3 linked regions of the Homo sapiens genome follow. The protein of the gene in region 1 interacts with the protein of each later gene in a biochemical or structural test. Each region holds a gene or a part of one and is shown on either strand. Other genes may lie near its edges. The genes, in order: HPF1, HMGN4 and HMGN2.

Evidence for each region.
Region 2: the proteins of HPF1 (region 1) and HMGN4 form a complex in vitro, tested with the Homo sapiens proteins (one study listed by BioGRID).
Region 3: the proteins of HPF1 (region 1) and HMGN2 form a complex in vitro, tested with the Homo sapiens proteins (one study listed by BioGRID).

What each region holds. Positions count from the first base shown.
Region 1 is NC_000004.12:169,733,887-169,740,992, forward strand, and holds part of HPF1 (histone PARylation factor 1), read right to left. Parts: intron 3,862-7,106; coding exon 3,774-3,861; intron 1-3,773. UniProt on the Homo sapiens protein: Cofactor for serine ADP-ribosylation that confers serine specificity on PARP1 and PARP2 and plays a key role in DNA damage response.
Region 2 is NC_000006.12:26,534,007-26,541,398, reverse strand, and holds the start of HMGN4 (high mobility group nucleosome-binding domain-containing protein 4), read right to left. Parts: upstream 3,034-7,392; 5' UTR 2,898-3,033; intron 1-2,897.
Region 3 is NC_000001.11:26,467,916-26,475,441, reverse strand, and holds the start of HMGN2 (non-histone chromosomal protein HMG-17), read right to left. Parts: upstream 3,003-7,526; 5' UTR 2,830-3,002; coding exon 2,815-2,829; intron 1,960-2,814; coding exon 1,915-1,959; intron 1,740-1,914; coding exon 1,710-1,739; intron 1,358-1,709; coding exon 1,307-1,357; intron 871-1,306; coding exon 775-870; intron 330-774; coding exon 294-329; 3' UTR 1-293. Other genes in the region: dehydrodolichyl diphosphate synthase complex subunit DHDDS, read right to left, coding at 6,311-6,550. UniProt on the Homo sapiens protein: Binds to the inner side of the nucleosomal DNA thus altering the interaction between the DNA and the histone octamer. May be involved in the process which maintains transcribable genes in a unique chromatin conformation.

The sequences.
Region 1 (7,106 bases):
CCTGTCTCAAAAAAAAAAAAAAAAAAATTACCAAGGATGGTATTAAAAATATACTATATACTAGTGCTTTTAACCCCAGTCTATGAATAACATTTGGTTCAGTCTTGACGACAGTACAGAATACATGCTGTTACCCCAGTCACAAAATGTGTTGTTCCCTTTCCCACTTTTGGTGGACCAGTATCGCATTGAACGAATGGCAAACTGCACCACCTACGTTTCTAACTATCTATAAACAGTAGTGACATATTTGTTGGTTTGAAACCTTTTACAAATTAAATTATTTTACATGAGCTTCATGACATTCCTTTCTTCAGAAAAATCAGTGCTGATCATTTCAAGAAAACAGATGAAGCTTTCTCCAAAAAGCTCCTTAAGGATGGAAAATAAGTGGTTCCTCCCTGTTATCGTGGGTGTAACTGATTGACTGGGACCCTTAGAATCTCTCTCGCTGTGCTCCAGTCAGCCACTACAAATCAGGGTGGGTATGGAAGTGAAGAATTTAAAGTTTATCGCTTTCCAGTATCTTATTTTCTATTTTTACACCTGGCAAGTCACATATGGACTAAAAAGAATAAGCAACTTATGCGAATTACTAAGCTAGAAAAACACTGAAGAACAGAGATGAAAATATTCAGCTCACCATCAGTACAAGGAAAAATATGTTCTTCCAGCAATAAAACATTCTACAGAAATTTCATTTAACTGAAACCCAAACTTAAAGAACATGAGTGAAGCCTTAAGTTAACTATTCAAAAATGATGACTTAAATGTTTCTACTCAAAATACTCAATTTAATGAGTTAGGAGTTTCACTGCTGAATTCTTACTATATCCCTGCCACTACTATCAACTAGAATACTTAAATTAAGCTACAGTAGTTCTGTCAAGGTAAAAATCAGGCAACTAGGCAGGCAACTCTTCTTACTTCGGATAGTAGTATGCACTCTACAGTCAGAAAACCAAGTATGAAAACCAGTGCCCTCAGCCGGGGCTTTGGGAAGCCAAGGCAGGTAGATAACTTGAGGTCAGGAGTTCGAGACCAGCCTGATCAACATGGTTGAAACCCTGTCTCTACTAAAAATACAAAAATTAGCTGGGCATGGTGGTGGGTGCCTGTAATCCCAGCTACTCAGGAGGCTGAGGCAGGAGAATCACTTGAACCTGGGAGGCGGAGGTTACAGTGAGCTGACACCCTACCATTGCACTCCGGCCTGGGTGACAAGAGCAAAATTCCATCTCAAAAAAAAAAAAAAAGAAGAAAGAAAGAAAAAAAGAAAACCAGAGCCCTTACTGACTAATGCTAAGCACCGTGAGTCTATTTCCTTTGTGAACATGGGAATAAGACCTACAATAAAGAGTTGGGTGAGAATTAAATACATCACTTGTTAAAGTGAATCATGACACTGACATTTAAGAATTGCTCAATAAAACGTATCTTATTTGCTAAGTTAAAGCGTTATTGTGAGAAGCTTCAAAGGGTTAAGAACAAACTTAGTTGTGATTTGCTAATCATTGTCACATTAACAAACTGCCAGTCAGTTATACCTCTTGGCAAATGACACTGGCAAGAGCAAGAAGATTAGGTCCTTCAGTCTTAATGTTTTGCTACCACTTCAAAACTAATTAAATACAGAAGGATCTAATGCCTAGAATAGTAGACTTGGATATAAAACCCCAGAACCACAACTACCGCAGGGTAACAGGCTTTACTCCAGGGCACTACAATTTAACATCCATCACCCCAAAAGCTTTAGAGACTGCCCATCTCTACAACAAATGTGCGCAACCTTTCCCAAACGAGATAGTAATCATGCTTTTTAAAGCTCTCTCTGTGAGCAGAGACATGAAGAGAAGATGACTTAGTGTAGAAGCAGAAGACTGACCAGTAGCTAGGGCCCACAATGGTCCCATCAGAGACTAATTGACTCTGGCTTCAAAGAGGAGATATAGGACAGATCAGCCTGTCTAAGAGAAATACAGTGTGGGTTACATTTTTTCCAGTATCCACATGAAAAAAGAAACAGGTGGGGCAGGAGAAGGAGCTAAAAAAAAAAAAAAAAACCAACAACAAAAAACAGGTGAAATTAAGATATTTTATTTAACCCATATTTCCAAAATAGTATTATGTCAACATATAATCAATGTAAGAAACATTTAATCCTGTTTTAATTTACAAACTTAAACTAATTAAAATTATAGAAAATTACAGGCCAGGTTCGGTGGCTCATGCCTATAATCCCAAAACTTTGGGAAGCCGAGGTGGGTTGATCACGTGAGCCCAGGAGTTCGAGACCAGCATCGGCAACAGAGTGAGACCCCGTCTCTACAGGACAAAAACAAAAACAAAAACAAAACCCACCAATTAGCCAGGCATGGTGGTGCACACCTGTAGTCCCAGCTACTCGGGAGGCCGAGACAGGTTAATTGCACCACTGCGCTCCGTCCTGGGTGACAGAGTGAGACCCTGTCACAAAAAAAAAAAAAAAAAGAAGTAAAAAATAAATACGAGTTACAAATTTTGTTGCAGGAGCCACCTGTGAGGCACTCAGTGGCCATCACACTGGACAGCTCAGCCACATTCGTCTTCCCTATGGCACTCCTCTAAGTGGCAGGGGTACAGCAAAAACAGGTCCGTATGAGTAGCTGCCATCTAAGACATCTCTACCTACTGGCTGGAGACTCTGCACAGTAAAATTTGAGAAGAACTGCTTTAGAGAATTGGTTTAAATGCAGATGTCCAGGTCACAACCCCCAGAGACTGGTAACTACCAAGGCTAGTTAGTTCTGTTCTGAAAAGCAGACGGCCAAATACGTGCATTGGGCAGGAATATGTGGTTCTTTGAGAAGATGCTAAGTTTGATTTCCCTTTAAGTTTTATCCCCCCAGAAGAGGATGATCAATAAAGGAATACCAGCAGGGCTGTTCACGATAAGGGAATGGAGACAAGGGGAAAAGAATTGAGAAGCGATTTTAATTCTCGATGTTTAACGTAGCAATAACTAGATTATGCGCAGTGGTCCATTTTCAAAGTGTTTTTATACTTACAGATGACGTAGTTCAGGATCTTGGGCTTCTGAAAGCTAAATCATTTTATAGGCAGATGAAAAAATGTTCACAAAGAACCATAAAAACACAATTTCAATAATTACTACTTTGCAAGTTGACTGTAATGTCAAAGGTTCGGAAATAGTTCCCAAGAAGCAGGCAATGGGTTAAAATTCTGAAACCCCGTCTCTACTGAAAATACAAAAATTAGCTGGGCATGGTGGTGGGTGCCTATAATCCCAGCTACTTGGGAGGCTGAGGCAGGAGAATCGCTTGAACCTGGGAGGCGGAGGTTGCAGTGAGCTGAGATTGCGCCACTGCACTCCAGCCTGGGCGACAGAGCAACACTCCGTCTCAAAAAAAAAAAAAAAAAACAAACAAAAAAAGAAACTACTGAATTTTGAACACTGAGGCAAGCATTTTGTTAAGTATTTTAATACTTGTTTACACCACAAATTCCTTTATGAAGTGCATATGATTAGCTCCATTTTACAGATGAAAAAGACAAGATTTCACAGGGTTAAATAATTTGTTCAAGGCCACACAGCTATGAACTCGGTTTTAATTCAGGAATGACTGACTCTAAAACCTCAGCTTACTCTTTATTACTAAGGTCTAGCGACTGTGTCAGAAAAGGTATATAGACATACCTACTTCCCAATATAAGCAAAACCTTTATTCATGTGCATTAACATATATGCACATGTTTACTATGAAATACATTACCATCTGTTTCAGGGAGCTCTCGGTACCCAACATCATTTTTATCTACTGGAACAACCAAGCCTGCACCATGAAAGGTCTTTGTCACAACCTACATTAAAGAAAAGAATAAAATGTAATCATGGTAAGCAGACATCAAAAAAAAAAATCCCCAAATACATAAACCCTCAACATTTCTGCCAAAATGTAACATTTAATCACATTTTATTTCAGTAAATTTGGACTCCAGGGTAAAAATTTAACACTATTTTTTTCTTGAAAATCAGCTAAAAGTTAAACAGTTGAAGTAATCACAGAACAGTGAAATAATTGGCTTTTCTTAATTGTGCCAGTCACTTGGAAGTCTGCACCCTGATTTGTTAAGGAAGAACCCAATACATCCTAGAAGGCAAGTCAAAATATTGGTTTCCTCTAAGGTCAAAGTACCTTCTGGTAGAAAGCACAGAGGAACCTGGTTCTAAAAGAAAAAGAGTAAGAAATAGTTCTTGTCAGCAAGAAGATATGGTAGGACAGAACTCCTCTCATCCATCCTGCCAAATTGAGACTCCCCTATTTTTACCTGGAATATTTAGGCTTCTCTGCAAACTTCCCAAAAGTAGGGCAGTTTCTAGGTTTGTGGTGTCCTTTATGGAGGCAAATCACATAACCAGTGAGCTTTTATTAAGTGGTAGTCTTCAAAGACAAAAACAGGCCCAACTACAACTACCACCATAACCCTTCCAGTTTCCATTCTTCCTTTAGCTCATGTTAGTGACATTATTTTTAGGTCTTTCCTTAGCGAAACATCTGTACAAATATTCCACTTCTTTGTGCAATTCAGTGAAAAGTTTCCAAGGCAGAGGAAGGACACAACCCAAAAACCAAACTCCAATTTTAAAGGCCTCTCACCTAAGTCTCTATATCTTAAAGATTTTTTTCTCTCTAATCTCCCTATTCTCCCAGTCTCTTGCTTCTTTCATTATCCTTTATTAAGCTGCCAGAAAGGGCAGATTATTCAAAGGAAGTTATCAGACAACTGCTTACCACTTGGGAAAAAAATGAAGTCATTGTCTTCTATCTTAATCTTTCTATCAAGATAATCTGCAGCTGGATTTCAGAATTAAATGTAAAAATAAAACCATACACATATACACCATGGAATACTATGCAGCCATAAAAAAGGATGAGTTCATGTCCTTTGTAGGGACATGGATGAAGCTGGAACCCATCATTCTCAGCAAACTACCACAAGGACAAAAAACCAAACACTACATGTTCTCACTCATAGGTGGGAATTGAACAATGAGAACACTTGGACACAGAGTGGGGAACATCACACACTGGGGCCTGTGGTGGGGTGGGGGGAGGAGGGAGGGATAGCATTAGGAGATATACCTAATGTAAATGACGAGTTAATGGATGCAGCACACCAACATGGCACATGTATACATATGTAACAAACCTGCACGTTGTGCACATGTACCCTAAAATTTAAAGCATAATAAATAAAAAATAAAGACATAAAACTACTCGAAGGTAAATTTTAAAAAATAATTTTGTGATAGAGAAGAGTTGACTATATAAAAATAAAAAGTCTATCCAGTGAAATCAAGTACACAAGACAAATTAACTGATAAAATATATCTGCAAAATGTAATAGTAAATAAAAATTAATGTCTTTAAACTATAAGGGAGTCTAACAAAGGAAAAGACTAACATCCAAATTAGAACACATGTAAGAAAAAGACTAATTCTAACCCTGATAGAGAAATGGGCAGAGTTCAGGCAGTTAAAAAAAAAATACAATGGCCAACAGAGAAAAGTATTTAACGTCCTTTATAATTAAAGAAATGCTAATTAAAACTGCAGAATTTTATACCTACCAGCATGGAAAAAACTAAAAAGACTAAAGAAAACCCCCCAAAATTAGAAACAAGCAAAGAAAAACTACAAACACACCTACACACACACAAACTACTTTGGACCTGGCAATACTACGTCTAGGAATTTCTTCTAAAAAAATAACCAGATAAGTATGAGAATAAAGGTATAAAAGGATATCTATGGCAGGATTGTGTTTGTGAAAAATCTTAAGCAACCCAAACTTTGACCATAAGCACAGTATTCTGCAGCCGCTCAAAATTATGAGGTAGATCTTAAATTGGCAATATGAAATGATAAAGATACCATATTCATAAGTGTAAAAAGCAGGACATAAAGCACTGATAATGAAAGAAAAAGACAGCAGTGCTATAGTTGCCAGCTCAGGCTGAACAACATAAAGAATGATGGTAATATGTTCAGATTTTTCACAGATGATTACCTGTACTAATTGTCCATGAAGAGGAATCAATTAAGAAGTCATCAGAATTGTAATTTTATTAAGAAATTAAGAAGAATAAGATTACAAATTTAGGAAAGCTGTATAGGGGTGGGTGACATCCTGAAGCATGGGATCACAGGTGGATGGAGTGCCACACCATCATTTTATGCATCATTTAACCAACGTTCCTTATGAAGAAATCCAGGTATGAAAAAGGTGAAGTGGCAGAGAGCCAATTAGTAAGAAGATGGGGTGGAAAGAATGCTAAATATGGAAAATATGAAGTTGGGTTTTACATGTGTCATTTAAGATTTTGGACAAGACACAAAACCTCTATAACCCTCAATTTACTCATCTATAAAATAGGATAATTCCAACTTTGCAGATTTGTTGTAGGGAGTCAAATGATATAACTCATAAAGACTCTGCATTCCAAAGTATGCTAAGTTACTATCAGTATAAAAACACTGATTTCTAGTGTGCTGCACAGTGCTCTATCATACTAGAGTGGAAATATGCTTACGCTCACACACAAGGACAAAGCCACTAACTCACATATACTAGTGGAATTGAATTCTTCAGTAGAAAAATATGAATTCAATGAAGATCTCACAAAAACAATAAAAGAACAACCTTGCATTTAACAGAAAAGGGTTTGAAAGTATAGTCATTAACAGGGGAGGATTAAAAACATGATTGTCTTGAAAGTTCTTTTTTGTCTTTGTTTTTACCAGCTGTTTTTGTATAAAAAACAAATACTAAAATGAAACTTCATAGGGGAGGGGTCTAGGACAAAAATATCTATGAAATTTAAACCTCAATCATATCTTCTTTATGGGGAAGAATTAAGAAAATCTCCTCTGAAATAAATCATAGCTTGTGGTAGAAAAATAAAAAAAGACTGATTAAATAATTTGCTAACAGCTATTATGTGTACGGATGCTCAGACTTTAGTCAAAACAAATTAGAAATACATTAACTAGGTTACAAATGCTACCCTTCCTCCTAGTCACAAAGTGGAAGAAGCTTCCTGT
Region 2 (7,392 bases), on another chromosome or scaffold:
TGGTACCTTGTTTCGGCAGCCCTAGCGGACTAACATAGGAGGGAACAGTGTAAGAATTTAGTGACTCAGGCAGGGCGTGGTGGCTCACGCCTGTAATCCCAGAACTTTGGGAGGCCAAGGTGGTCAGAAGTTCGAGACCAGCCTGGCCAACATGGTGAAACCCTATCTCTACTAAAAATACAAAATTAGCCATGGGTGGTGGTGCGTGCCTGTAATCCCAGCTACTAAGGATGCTGAGGCAGGAGAATTGCTTGAACCCGGGAGGCAGAGGTTGCAGTGAGCCGAGATTGCGCCACTGCACTCCAGCCTGGGCAATAGAGTGAGATTCTGTTTCAAAAAAAAAGGAATGTAATGACTAGGGAAACATCTTGGATTAGATTAATTTGGGGGTCTCACCCAGCTCTCAAAATATATTTTTCCATGTTTTTTCTCTTTCATAGCAAGCAAATCCATGGACCAAAATGCCACCTCATTCAATACTCATTTTCACCTCATCCCTAGCAAACACAAGGCACATTTTAGCAGCATCTTTTTGATCACTCGATGGATACGGAACTGGGTTTCTGGGAGGTAGTTCTAACTTGGGTTTTAGCCTCAATCCCACCCCGAAATCAGAAGGTTCCCCTCTCCCTCCCTGCCTCTTACTTAAGGAGAGATCGTGTTTGGGGGTTGGAGGGAAGATCTGGAAGAAAGTTAAGAACACCAAGCTTAGGAAGGAGAGAATAAAGGATATAATTAAAATACAATAAAAAATGCACAGGCAAATGCTGGGCGTGGTGGCTCACGCCTGTAATCCCAGCACTTTGGGAGGTGGAGGCAGGTGGATCACTTGAGGTCAGGAGTTCAAGACCAGCCTGGCCAACATGGTGAAACCCATTTCTACTAAAAATACAAAAATTAGCTGGGTGTGGTGGCATATGCCTATAGTCCCAACTACTTGGGAAGCTGAGGCAGGAGAATCACTTGAGCCTGGGAGGCGGAGGTTGCAGTGAGCCAAGATTGTGCCACTGCACTCCAGCCTGGGTGACAGAGCAAGACCCGGTCTCAAAAAAAAAAGAAAAAAAAAAAAAGATTCACAGGCAAGATGCAGTGTGCTACAGAAGCAAGAGGTCACATGGTGTCAGTCACTCTCCAGGGCGTTTGTTCTTCATCTTCCAAAGTATTAGAGACGCAGCATGAGTTTCCACGGAGGTTAAGTGAGAGAGACTGGGAGATGCAGGGGTAGAAAGGAAAGATGAGAAAACGCAGGGTGTCTAAAAGGGTAGGTTTGCTGCTGCAGCTTGCCAGAATGCATCTGCTTTAAAGAGAAGGAGTGAGCCATAAGCTCCCAAACAGTCACCCATCTGTAAAGGTTGGTTAGGGGCACACTCACCTTCCAGGCTAAAGTATTCCTGCTAACTGGGATCGGAGAAAGATGAAGAGGATAAATCCTTGTCATCTCCTAGGACCCTGGAACCTTTGCCCCCTTTCTGGGCACCATAATAACTTGCTTATATTTCTGAGTAGTACAGAGGGGATTTTAAATGAAAATGTATTAGACAGGTTGCTGTTGAGCACATGCCCAAGTTTATTGTCTTGCTAACCAAGATATTATCTTGCTAGCCAAGGTGTTGTCTTGTTAAGGGAACCAGCAAGATGACAAAAGAATGGACCTTTCAAGTCAACGTCTACCCAAGCAGCCTGTTTAAGAAAATGATAAAAAGAAAACAGCTCATTAACATTGTCCTTTTCTTTCTTTTCTTTTCTTTTTTTTTTTTTTTTTTTAATTTTGCGGACCCACCAAAGAATGCAGCCCTTCTTTTCTCATGGTCATAAAAATATCACATTCGGTTGGGCGCGGTGGCTCATGCCTGTAATCTCAGCACTTTGGGAGGCCGAGGCGGGCGGATCACTTGAGGTCAGGAGTTTGAGACCAGCCTGGCCAATATGGTGAAACTCCGTCTCCAACTAAAAATACAAAAATTATCCGGGTGTAGTGTTACACACCTGTAGTCCCAGCTGCTCGGGAGCCTGAGGCACAAGAATCGAGGTGGAGGTTGCAGTGAGCGAGATCGCACCATTGCACCCCAGCCTGGACAACAGAGTGAGACTCCGTCTCAAAAACAAACAAACAAAAACAAACACATCACATTCTTATTAGTCATTTGAGGGAACCTGGAGCAATATGATCTGAGAGGCTAGGCTTGGCTAATCCCTAGAAAAAGTAGTAATACATCTAAGAAAGAAATCCCTCTTAGGGAACACCCGAGGCTGCCAGGTGACACAACAAAACTTTCTCATAAAAGCGTTTGATTAATCCGATTAACTTGTAAGCAAGCCATGTGGCAGAGGTAAGAGGCCAAACACCAAGGCACCAGTCCTGATTCTAAACAAGTGCTGGTCCATTTCTTAACTTTGGGATCCATTTTTTCTTTGTGATGGAATAGCAAAAGGTCAAAGTGGAGGAGGACTCAGCCCTTGGGTGTCTCCTCAACGAGGGTTTCTCGAAGGTAAATTGGGGAGGAAGGGAGAGCCCACGGCAGGTCAGTCCAACCTGCCAGTCACCACCTCTTTAAGGCCACAGCCCTGCGGGAGCAATCCTTTCAAATCCCCTTCCTTCCTTCTTTTAGAACGCCCCTAGAACGCCGATTAGGACTTCTCATCCCGGTCGGGCCTGCGGCTCTCTGTGACCCCACCTCTGGATTCAGCTTTTCCCAGGGATTCACACTCGGAGCTCAGGAGAGATGCTGCGATTACTCTGGAGACGGGAAGACAGGCGGGGCTGACGGGGCCCAAGGCCCCTAATCATGACCGGGGCCAGCTGGCAGGAGGGTCCTAAGTATACGGAGGGCGGCGGGACCCCCCCCACCACGCCCCTCATTTTCCGGGGTAGCGCACAAAGTCTGTGAGGCACTTACCCGAGTCTCGTGGCCGTCCGAGGGGCGCGGGAATCCCAGCTGAGGCCCGTGACGCGCCGGAGCCCTAGGCGTGGGCAGGGCCAGCACCAGCCCTAAGACAGAGAAGACGAGCGGAGCCCGGCTCCGCCAGGAACAGGAAGGCGAGGGAAGGTGAGGATGCGCTTCCGGGGCTGCAGGCGGGGAGCCGCCCCGAGTCCAAGCCGGAGAGAGCTGGTTCTCCCCCTGGCGATACGTGTGTGAGCCTCTGAGGCCCGCCCTAAGCACTGCTGCCCCGATCTAGCAAGACAAGAAGACAGGAAATTTATGACAGCCTGAAAAAGTCTTTAAAAGATACACACTGGAAGAATTTCGTAGTAAGATGAGGAAAAAAAAACGTGTTTCCGCCCGGTTTCGAACCGGGGACCTTTCGCGTGTGAGGCGAACGTGATAACCACTACACTACGGAAACCCACTAAGGGCTTATTTTTCAGAGTAAATAGTTCTTCCTGCCTAGTTCCGTGTTTCTTCGTTCCAAGTGCGTGTTTTGCTGATGTGCGCGTGCGTCTCTGTACCGACCTCTCAAACCAGAAAAACCAATGAAAAGCTCAGACCCAGCCCCTCCAGTGTTCAAACTGAAGCCATAGAATTTATTCTACAAATGACTGAATAGGGAAGAACACAATAGAGACTTTAATTTAATCTCTGAACGGTCCTTCGTTCTTCGGCCAAAATGGCCAGGCAAGGCTGGGCACAACTTGGGTAGGGCGAGCGTTTCTCTGGCGTAGTTGGCGTTACCACGTGGTCAGTGGCAGAATGCTCCGCAAAGAAATGATAACCCCATATGTTGTCGGGAGCTGCCCCTCTTGCTTCTGAGTCTTCCAGGCAAATTTATCTTGCAGGAATTTCCTTACTCCTGCGGAGTCAGAAAGTTGTAAAACGACCCTGCTTACACCGAGCCAGCCAGGAGTCGAACCTGGAATCTTCTGATCCGTAGTCAGACGCGTTATCCATTGCGCCACTGGCCCTGCGCGTACCTTAGGGGCGAGGTATTTCATAAGAAACTAGGTTGTACCCGTAATATCTGGGTGAACGCCTGTAAGCCGCGTTTGCCCGCTGGTCCAGGCTCGCAGCGCATGGACTCTCTGGTAGCTACTTCTGCACACGCCCCGTGGCCTTCATTCCTTTCTCGGTCTGTCTCTGCCGGCTGAAAAATGGCGGTGAAAAGCAAGCCCTGCATCCTCTCTGCCCCAATATCACCGCTCCATTAATGCGTTCGTTCATTCAACCAGTATTAGTGTTCAAGGCACTGCAGATAACGGTGAAGAAAACATGAGAGACCCTTGCCCTCAAGATTACATGGCAGTGGCGGAAGCGGATAATAAAGCATTAAATAAACAAAATAATAGTGATAAGCGATTGGAGAAAAATAATAATAAAACAGGGAAAGAGGATAGGAAAGGCCAGCAGTGAAAGTGATGAATGAGGGATAAATGCTGATATCGGGGAAATGAGTGATCTGGAACAGGGAAAAATCGCTAGGGAAAAGGCCTGGAGGTGGAAGCAGGCTTGGGAGTTATGTTGAGGAGGCCGGTGCTCAGTGGAGAGGAATAGGAGATCCTGGGAGACCACCTCCAGCTTTATAGGCCCTTGTAAGGACTCTGGCCAGCTTTACAGGCTCTTGTAAGGACTCTGGCTGGTATTCTGTAGGAAACTGGAAGCCGTTGTACGGTGACGTGGTCTGAGTTTTCATTTGTCTCTCTGTGGGTCTTTTTTTTTTTTTCTTCAAATATTTTACTAAGCGAAACTGTGCTAGGCCTCCTCACTGCATGCTGCTTCTACTGCAGGGCCTTGATCTCAGAATTTGACAGCTTTATAAGGAGCATCATCAACCCGGACACTCATATGAATGTTCACTTTTTCACTTTGAAAGCAAACAAACGTCTCATATGTGTGTGTTTTAGTTTGTCCATATTTCTGAGAATAAATCATCCCCATGCCTGGTGAGCATTTTAAATAAGATGAGGTCTACTAAACAGAAGTAAAACTGCCTGATATTGAGAATATACACTTTGAGATTAGAAAATATTTGTTTTCAGTTCATAAGGTTTCAACAGCCGTTACAAAAAATATTCTGCTCTTTCTGCATAAATATTAAGGTAGACCTAGGTTATGGATTACTCCCTAGGCAATAGCATAGGGATCTTCTCGTTAGGTTTTGTACTATGGACCCCAAGGGCAGCTTGGTGATTCTGGACTCTATCTCAGAATAATACTTTTAAATACACGAAAGAAAAGATAAATATGTAAGATTTCAAAAGAAAACTAATTATGTTAAAATAGGTTACCAAAACTTTTTTTTTTTTTTTTTTGGAGACAGAATTTTGCTCTTATTGCCCAGGCTGGAGTGCAATGGCGCGATCTCGGCTCACCGCAACCTCTGCCTCCCGGGTTCAAGCGATTCTCCTGCCTCAGCCTCTCAAGTAGCTGGGATTACAGGCATGCTCCACCACGCCCGGCTAATTTTGTATTTTTAGTAGAGACGGGGTTTCTCCATGCTGGTCAGGCTAGAGCATCCCTGGAAGTCACAGGTCCCACCTAGCACCTTAAAAATGAGCTTTAACCCAGCTGGCTGTAGGCTCTGTCCACATTCAGTCTCCTTAGTGTTTGTCTATAAAAATTTATCTGTGTTTTGCAGGCTTTGAAGACCTCCCTTGGGTGCCTCAAATTTCTTAGCCATATTCACTACAATAAATGCTTTCAGCTGGGCGTGGTGGCTCACGCCTGTAATCCCAGCGCTTTGGGAGGCCGAGGTGGGCGGATCACGAGGTAAGGAAATCGAGACCAGCCTGCCCAACATGGTAAAACCCCGTCTCTACTAAAAATACAAAAAATTAGCCGGACGTGGGTCCCAGCTACTCGGGAAGCTGAGGCAGGAGAATTACTTGAACCCGGGAGGCGGAGGTTGCAGTGAGCCGAGATCGCGCCCATTGCACTCCAGCCCAGGCAATAAGAGCAAAACTCTGTCTCAAAAAAAAAAAAAAAGAAATGCTTTTGCTTTGCTCTTGGAAATCTTTCTACATCTTTTCTGACAGTTCCAGTTTCAACTTCCAGTCTTTTCTTCAGCATATATCGGAGAAAGAGTCCAGATATATAAATCTAGATATATATCTATATATATCTAGGGTGAGGACTGGCAAGTCTGAAACCTGTAGGGTTGTAGGGCAGGCTGGAAACTCTCAGGCAGAAGCTGATGCTGAAGTCTTGAAACAGAATTTCTTCTTCCTTAGGGAGGCCTTTGTTTTGCTCTCAAAGCCTTTTAACTGATTGGATAAGGCCCATCTACATAAGGGAGAATCTTTTTTTAAGGTTAACTGATTGTTAACCACATTTACAAGATAACTTCACAGAAACATGTAGGTTAGTGTTTAATTGAATAACTGGGTAGCCTAAGTTGACACATACAACTATGACAGTGGTGGACTCTTCTCTGTGTTTCAGTGCAGTTTTTTTTAGTTTCACTCCCAGGCACATGGAAAACTACACCATCTGCCACTCTCACATTGTTTTACATGACTGTCGGCAGTCTGTGACACAGCCACCTGCATCCTCTCCAATTTCAGACGTGTGGAGCGGAGCCAATGTGAGGGTTCCATGGTTCCTAATCACAGTCGGAACTGAATAGAAGATATGGTTCACACCAAGAGTTCTGTAAATGATTGCTCAAAGTCTCAATTTGCTTCCAAGGCTCATCTCTGGCTAAACAATTCCTTTGACATTCTAGAAATTCTGTGCAAACTTCGTCAGCTGCCAAAGGAAAAACCAAAATAAAATACTATTGGCTCTGCTGTCTGGGGCCTGCCACAGTTGGGTTAAAGCCATATTAGGTGTGACTGTGCTATTTATGATGATTATATTGGCTCCAAGCACACTAATAATATGATGGCTAATCTTATAATAATAAAGTAATAAGTGCTTATTTCATGAGTCTCAATCAAAGTGAGTGCTGAATTCATAGACTGGCATCTTTTTTTTTTTTTTTTTTTTGAGACGGAGTCTCGCTCTGTCGCCCGGGGTGGAGTGCAGTGGCGCGACCTCAGCTCACTGCAAGCTCTGCCTCCCAGGTTCACGCCATTCGCCTGGCTCAGCCTCCCGAGTAGCTGGGACTACAGGCGCCCACCACCACACCTGGCTAATTTTTTTGTATTTTTAGTAGAGATGGGGTTTCACCGTGTTAGCCAGGATGGTCTCGATCTCCTGACCTCGTGATCCGCCCGCCTCGGCCTCCCAAAGTGCTGGGATTACAGGCGTGAGCCACTGCGCCCGGCCGACTTGCATCTTTTTATAAAAATGAAAACTCTAGTCGGCGTGACCTTTTACTGTTCCCCCCATCGCATACATAGGCAAAGGTACATGCCAATGTCTGCCTTAGACTGTGACAGAGAAATCCTTCAAATATTGATACAGCTAAGGAATACTGAAATGTCTGTTTCAGCATAACCACCAGGACAACAGATTT
Region 3 (7,526 bases), on another chromosome or scaffold:
CCATGTGTGTCAAAGTCAGGGAATCCCTCCTCCTGGGAGCCAAGAGGAAGTCTCTCAAAACTAGAAGGGAAAGGTGTTTTCTCCACATCAATCCAGCTTTGGAGACATTCTATTAGTGACATATGCCCCTTCCCCCAAAAACAACAATGAAGTGTTCTGTGTGCTAACAACATAGCTTTTAAAAAAAAAAAAAAAGTAAAACAAAATTCTGCATTTTTATAAAACTTGATAAAAAATAGTATTTCAAACTGTACAGTCACCAGAAGTACACAGTTATCAAAAATGCACACACTTCACTTGGCATCTCCAGCACCTTCAGCTTTCTGTGCCTAAAAGAAAACAGACAAATTAATGCAATGCGTAGATTTCAAAACTATCTGTGTTCACATTCCACCTACAGCATCACTTTGCTCCCAGGCCAAAGTTCAGGTTTCAGGTACTGAGACTCAGTATTTCTTCTGAGAATGACTTACTAGGTAACTTTGCTAAGTCACCTCTCCTCTGGGCCTCACTGTAAAATTGAGGTAGGAAGAACACCAGAATAAGAGACCTGAGGTTACTCCTAGCTTGAAAACTTCATGTAGTATAAAACACAATGCCCTTCAGCTGACAGTAGAGATTTCAAGAATCCAGGATTTAAGTTAACAGGAAAGCCACAAGCACACTGGACCAAATGGTACATTTGGAGTGATACAAGAAAAGGGCAATTAAATTTTTGATATCAGCAACTAACTGAATGAACAAATCTAACAAAGGGTGAAACAGCAGTTATACCTGGTCTGTTTTGGCATCTCCATTTTCTGCAGGGTTATTCCCCTCCTTGCCAGCATCAGCTTTTCCCTTTTTCCCTTTGGGTACCTTCTCTCCCTTCTGAAAAAGGGGAAAAAATAGAACTGTTTCTCCCCATTTCGTATTACCAAGGTATGGTCTGCAAAGTTCTGCACAAGGTAGGATTGTTTACTCAAGATAAAACACAAACCCTCACCCATTTGACAAGAACAACTGATCAAAACTAGGCTAAATTATCTGTAATTTGCTATAATCTTTAGTACTTAGAATTTCCTAAGTAACAGAAGAATAAATTAGTTTAAACCCTGGGGTATTTAATATTTAAATGCAGATTTTCCTATAAACTAACAACAGAATTCTTGATCAGGAAACCAACGTTATGAATGACACGGACGAGGTAAGCTATCCACACAGTTTATAACCTCCATTAATGGAGGCACCATTATGCTAATTAAGTTAAGGCACTAAGGACAGTCCTCATTCTGTGAAAATGATCAGTTCCAATGTTAGCACTTACCTTTGCAGGGGCCTTTTTAGGCTTGGGCTCTGGCTTTGGAGGAGCAGGTTTCTTTTTTTGGCAGGAAGAGAGGAAAAAGTGAACATCAGTACAATGGACTGAAGAAAACCACCCACAACCAACCAAAAGTACCAAGGGTAGAGAAGTTTCTCCTCCTCCTCAAAAGTTTTTGTGGTTGGCTTTCTTCTAGAATGTTGGATTTCCAGAAGCCCACTCAAATGTCCCACTTTGGCTACAGGCATCAGAATTTCAGAACCAGCAAAACCCAAAGGGGCAAGAGTCCCAAGTAGAGGCAATGATTCAAAACCAGGCACTAACCATAATTCATGGAAGCAAAGGGAATTGTTTTTTGATGTTTTTTAGTTTCAGGGACAAGCACGAAAATTCAAAAGCATACACTTACAGCAGACAACCTCGCGGATCTTCTCTGTGGCTATTAAAGACAACGAGAAAGTTAGAAATAGGACAGGTAAGTCGCTTTGAAAGTTTGGTATCAATTTGCTCTAGATTATAGGAGTGTAAATTCAGGACACAGGTTACGGTTAATCACCGAGTCCAGTGGCCTCTGCTAGTCCAAGGCTTTGACCCTTGAAGAGAGAATGACTTACTTCGTCCTTCACCTTTGCTTTATCTCCCTTAGCATCCCCTTCAGCCTATAAGAAACAAGAACAAAAAACTGCAGATTTTGAGGTGGTTCTTAATTACTTCCCAAACTTTAGAGTGCTAAAAATGAAAATTAAAGCAGTCGTCCACACAACTTTTCTAGGACATAAATGAGTGAGCCCGACGTTCGTATAAGAACGAAGCGCGCGCAGGAGCTCCGGCTCGCCGACCCCGAGAAGCGAGGGCTGGACCGGAGCGCAGCCGGGGAGGGCAGCGGAGCCCGCACCACCGCGACAGGCAGGAGCAACAGCTGCAGATGGCGCAAACAAACCCCCTCCGGAGGCGGAGCCCAGCGCCGTTGCTATGGCAGCCGTCGAGGGCGGGAGAGGGAGGCGCGCGCAGCCCGGGGAACTCGTGGGCGGCGACAGCGCGCGTCTCGTGCGCGGGGAACGTGGGCGAGGGGGCGGGGCCATACCGCACAAGCCCCGCCCCTCACGGCGGCGGTTTTTTGGCGGCAGCGCTTTCCCCCGCCCGCCAACCCCGAGCGCCGCCTTCCCGCCCTTTCGGGTTTGAATTGCCCGCCCGCAGGGAGGGGAGGGAAGGGGCCCTCGCGATGGGGGAGGGGGCACGGGGCGGGGGCGGCGAGCCCGAGGAGAGCGGGATAAACAGCCGCCAACATGGCTCCTCCCGCCGCGGCCGCCGCTCCTCCAATATGGCCTCTGGCGCCCGCGGGCAGCCGAGCCGCTCAGGGTTAGCCCCGAGCTGCCCGACACCGTCTCCAGCCCCCGCGCGGGGAGGCTGCGCTGGCTCCTGCTCGGCGCCGATTCTCGCTCCCTGCACCAGGGAGGCGGCGGCGGCGGTGGCGGCAGTGGTGGCCCGGCGCCTGGGGCCCTCGCGCCACGTACCTTTCTCTTGGGCATGGTGGCGGCGGCGACGGCAGCGGGACGTAGGTGCTGGACGCGGGATGCAGCGGCGCGCGGGCTTTGGTCGGTCCGGGGGTCGTTCTCGCCTCTTCTTCACACTGCTCGGGCTCCGGGGGGTTTATAAAGTTTTTATAGCGCTGGGAGCCCCGGACCGGTTAGAACCGGATTTCACCTCCCGCCGCCGTTCATTGGCCCAGCTGGGGTCACGTGGGCGGGGTTTAAACTCACCTCCTCTGGAGGGAGTGAGGAGGGGGGTGTGTGGGGGGGGTAGTGCGCGGAGACGGCGGCGCGCCGAGGGGGTGGGGGCGCAGTCGGGGTGGCGCGCGTCGAAGGCAGTAAATGAGGAGGGGTGCGCGAGTCGGCGGGCTCCGGGTTCCGGCTCCCGCCAAGAGCTGTCTTTTGCAAACTAGCAAGTTCCTTCCACCTTATGCAACCCAGCAACCCACTTCTCCAAGCCGTGCGACACTCACGGCGCATCTCAGCGGCTTTCCTTCCTGCTCCCGCTGGGGGCCCCAGAAGAGGGGTTTGCGAGGCCTGGCTGCACTGCCCTGCTCCTCTGGAAGCAGGAGGAAGCGCGCGGCTGGAGGCACAGGCTGCAGTTCCCAGAGCCCAGGCTGACGCCAAAGTGGGAAAAAGGCGGGGAAACCAGCTTGGCGCAGCCGGACGTGCATCCTTCCGAGCTGCCACTTCGGAGAAGCCTTTCGTGCACCTCACCTGAAAGACGGTCCCACTCGAGGTGGGCTAGGGGTTTCAGGGGGAGACTTTCCATGCAGAGGTGCCTTTTGGGTGCCGTGGGTCAGGTAGGAGCTGTCCTTTCAGCACCCGTTGCGCAGCCGCCTCCCCAAATGCTATCGAAGCCCCCACCCCCAACTCCTCTCGGGTGGCTCCCTTAAGGTCCCTGTATTCCCAAACCTCCAGACCCCGCCACAGTATGGTGGAGAGCGGCCGTCGAGGTCTACCAGCACTCACTTCCCCCTACACTCTACCCCTCTCGGAGACATTTTGCCCAGCTGCCCAACCCGACGCGGCCACCAAGCCTGGGCACTGCAGCCGCAGCTGGCGAAATCCCTCCTTCCACACTGTCAAGCTGGCTGCCTTTCACTTGCGCGAGGAAAGGAGGGTGGAGGAAAGCGCCCGGGGATTAGGAAACAAGTAGAGGAACAGGTGGTGTGATGGCAAAAGGGCTCTTCCGGTGCCCCCTAGTCCAAAGCCAGGGTCTTGGAGCTAGCCAAGTGCACCTGAGGGAGGGTAGGCAATTGCAGCAGCAAAAGAAGGTGTTCTTCCGTTGCAGTTAGCAAACAAGTTTTACATCTAAGAATCTTTAAAAATTCTATTTGAGACCCAGCACACAAGAATACGATAGATGTCCTCAAATGGGGGCTTGGCTCACAGGTGGAAGGACACTAAATTGGTCCCATCTGATTTCTTGAGGCAAGGGTTGAACCTGGCTTGCACAAATCACACCTGTCCAAAGCAACCACGAGTTCTACTATTTTGCAGCCCTTGCTGCTGGGCGACGACGACGACCTCTCTGCCTCTTCTTTCCACCACTACATCGCCTCCTGGGGCAGCTTCTCCCTACTCCACCCTGTGTACCTTTCCCAGAATACAGAACCTCAGGCCAAAGAGAGATGCCAGCCCCATTAATCACCTCTACTGTACCCCAATCATATTACGGAAAGTCAGACCCAGGAGACAGGACTCAACAGCCACGCTCATAGGGCAGATTCCGTTTGCTGCCTCCAGCCCCTCATTCCCGCCTTAATTGTAGGGCTCTGCATTATAGCCGCATAATTCATGCCTCCCTAATTATGGCTGTCAACAGCCCCATTGTAAAGCTGTAAAATGTACAGCACCTGCTCTCCAGGAACCCTGTGCCAGGGATTGGTAGAGGGGAGTGCCAGGTGTGGATGGGGGCTTTGCCAAAGGGTTCACTGATTGGCTTCTCAATCGCCGTGTCTGGCATTTATGCTTGATTCTGGGAGCATGGACAATAGCCAAGAAGTCTCTTGCCGCCAGGTATCCCGGGACAGAAAGGGGAAGAGGCGGGTGGGGTATAGGAAAGTTAGGGGTTTCCTGTGTGCTCTTGCTACAACTTGCAAGATTTCACCTCTCCCCTAGAGGGAGCTGCTAGGGAAACAGCTTGCAGAAAGTAAAATGGGAAGTCTGGCATGGTGGCTCATGCCTGTAATCCCAGCACTTTGGGAGGGTGAGGCCGGCGGATCACCTGAGGTCAGGAGTTCGAGACCAGCCAGGACAGGGTGAGATGCTGTCTCCAAAAAAAAAAAAAAAAAGAAGAAGGAAAATGGACTTTAAAGAGAGTAGCATTTGGTTGGTGTTGCTGGCTGGTACTTGCCGGTGTGGGGCACCTGAAATAGAGTTGCTCAGGCAGACAGCTCTTCAAAGGCACTAATCCTCTCAGCAGCTCTGCAGCAAGTCCTGGCAGAGGGAGGTAAGGGAAAGGACACAGCTTTGACCCTCACAAGCAGAGGACCTAGAACAAGCTTTGCCATGCCAAGAATAAATCATCTAGGGCCTACTTAGGGAGCCAGGTCAAAAAGCTGAGAGAAACCTCGAAGAGTGGAGTGGGAATCAGAGTTTGAGATGGTGAGGGCAGGGAGCAGAGTCAGTTGGAAGAAGTGTTTGGTTCTGCTCAGTCCTGTTGTGTTACAGGGGAGGCCTGTGCTGGATTCAGTTCACCAGGGCCTACAGGCCCTTCTGTTACCCTGAACCATGGAGGGGGCCAGTCTCATTTGGGAGTGGAGCCTGGCCCCATGCCCTGCAAGAGGAGGAGAAAAGCTTGTGTGGGCTGAGTCGACAATAGGTAATTGGATTGTAATCGCCCGCCTGGCTTCCGCGCACCATTGGGGGTGCTGAGTCTTTCAGTGAGCAATCAGTACTGTGTGGTGGGAGAGGGTAGAGATTCAATAGCAAATCCCAGGTGGAGAGCCAAGGGGGAGGAGCAGCAGATGGGCAAATTTTCTGTCTCTCCCACCCCTTTTTTCCTTACCCAAATAACTGCCTGCCTATTAGTTATTTACTAGCAGATCCAAGGTAGAGCCAAATCTTTTGTGGAAGCTGGGTGGAAGGCTAAAATGGAAGGGTAAAGAGCTAGGGTTTTGGGGAGAACTCTTCCCTGAAATTCTGTGTGTTGAAGGATGTGCTGGTGGAAAAAGAAAGTGCATCTAAGAGACAGGCAGCTGATGAGTTGTGGCCCTTTGCTCTCCAAACCCTATTGGTGACCAGACCTAGGTTTAGTGTACTCGTGGGAGACTTTCACCCTCAATCCTCCTCAGGAGCCTGTCCCAGGCAGCCCAAAGGTATCTATGGCCAGCAAACCTGGCCTGGGGGGCTCCCCAGCCAAGCAAAGGGAACACCATTCATTATCAGGAAAGGAGGTGCCTTTCACCAAGAAAAGGAAGGGGAGTGGAGCCCTGGAGGCAGAGGGCAGGGCAAAGTGGCAGGTGGCCAGCCTCATTCAGGCTGATGCAGTGCCCAGACGGGCCAGCCAGTCAGCTCGCTTGAGTTCCAAGGCCTGCAGGAAGCCTTGGACTCGCTCTTCCCGTCTGGCCGAGAGTTTGTGCAAGCGTGTCCTTCGGAGCTGGGCGTCCCCACTGGCTTGGAGCCCCTCTCGCAGCAGCTGCTCTGTCACTGTAGCCTGGTCCCTCTCCAGCTGCTGCCTCTTCCGCTCCTCTGCATACATGTCTCGGGCCTTCTGCTAGAGAAAAGTGGGGATTGGGGTGGGGAGATCATTTTTAGGAGTGGGTGAAACTGGGATGGAGGAGGTAGGGGGTGGGGCACAGGGTGGGCCAAGTGAAGTGGAACAGTGGAAAGTAGGTACCAGATTTGAAAAGGCTTGGGAGTAGGTATGCAGTGGGTGGTGCTCATGTTGTACAGGCAGGGCAGTGGCAATTCTGGGTCCATCTTGGTTTGTTTTGTGTGGAAGCGTCTGTACTTCTTAAAGTTTTTCTCATGCTCTTGGAACCAAACAAATGTGGGTCTGACTTCTGATTCCCCCATCAACTGGCTTTGTGTCTTTGGGCAAATCCTGTCCTAACCTCATTTCTTCATCTGTAAAGTGGGGGTTGTGCCTACCTTGAAGAGTGGTTTTAAGGATTAGAGATAACATATGCAAAATCCTCTCTAGGATATTAGCAGGCTCTTAGACAGAAACAGCAATTTTACAAGTTGTTATTGTCTATTCTCCGCTGCAAGAAAGGTCCTATTCTTGTCGGGGACATGTCCCTTGGGTCACTTCCTTTGATCTCCCCAGGTTTTCCTCTGAGGGTACCATCCTCCCCACTCCCTAGGCTATTTTTCAGAGCTCCAGACTTGCCTCCTGTATGAAGACCAGCCTGATCCTTCCAGCAAATGACCCCCCTATGAACATTCTGAGAAGCAGGTTCAACTCTCTTAAGCCACTTATTGCATTCTGCATAGTAGAATAAGTGTTAGTGTTCACAATCCACTCTTTCTGTTAGAAAATAAGCCCTTGGAAGTTTGAGAGCCTTCAAGCCTCTTGCAACCAGCTCTGACACCAGGTGGTGATCATACTCCCTGGCAGCAGTTATCATCCCAAGTACTAGAGGGCAGAGACTGGGCTTCTTCCTCTCCAGCACTTGGGGTGCCCTGTACATGTGAAACACTCAACTGACTGACCACGTGATCCCAGGAGAGCAGTGAGGATGCTCCTG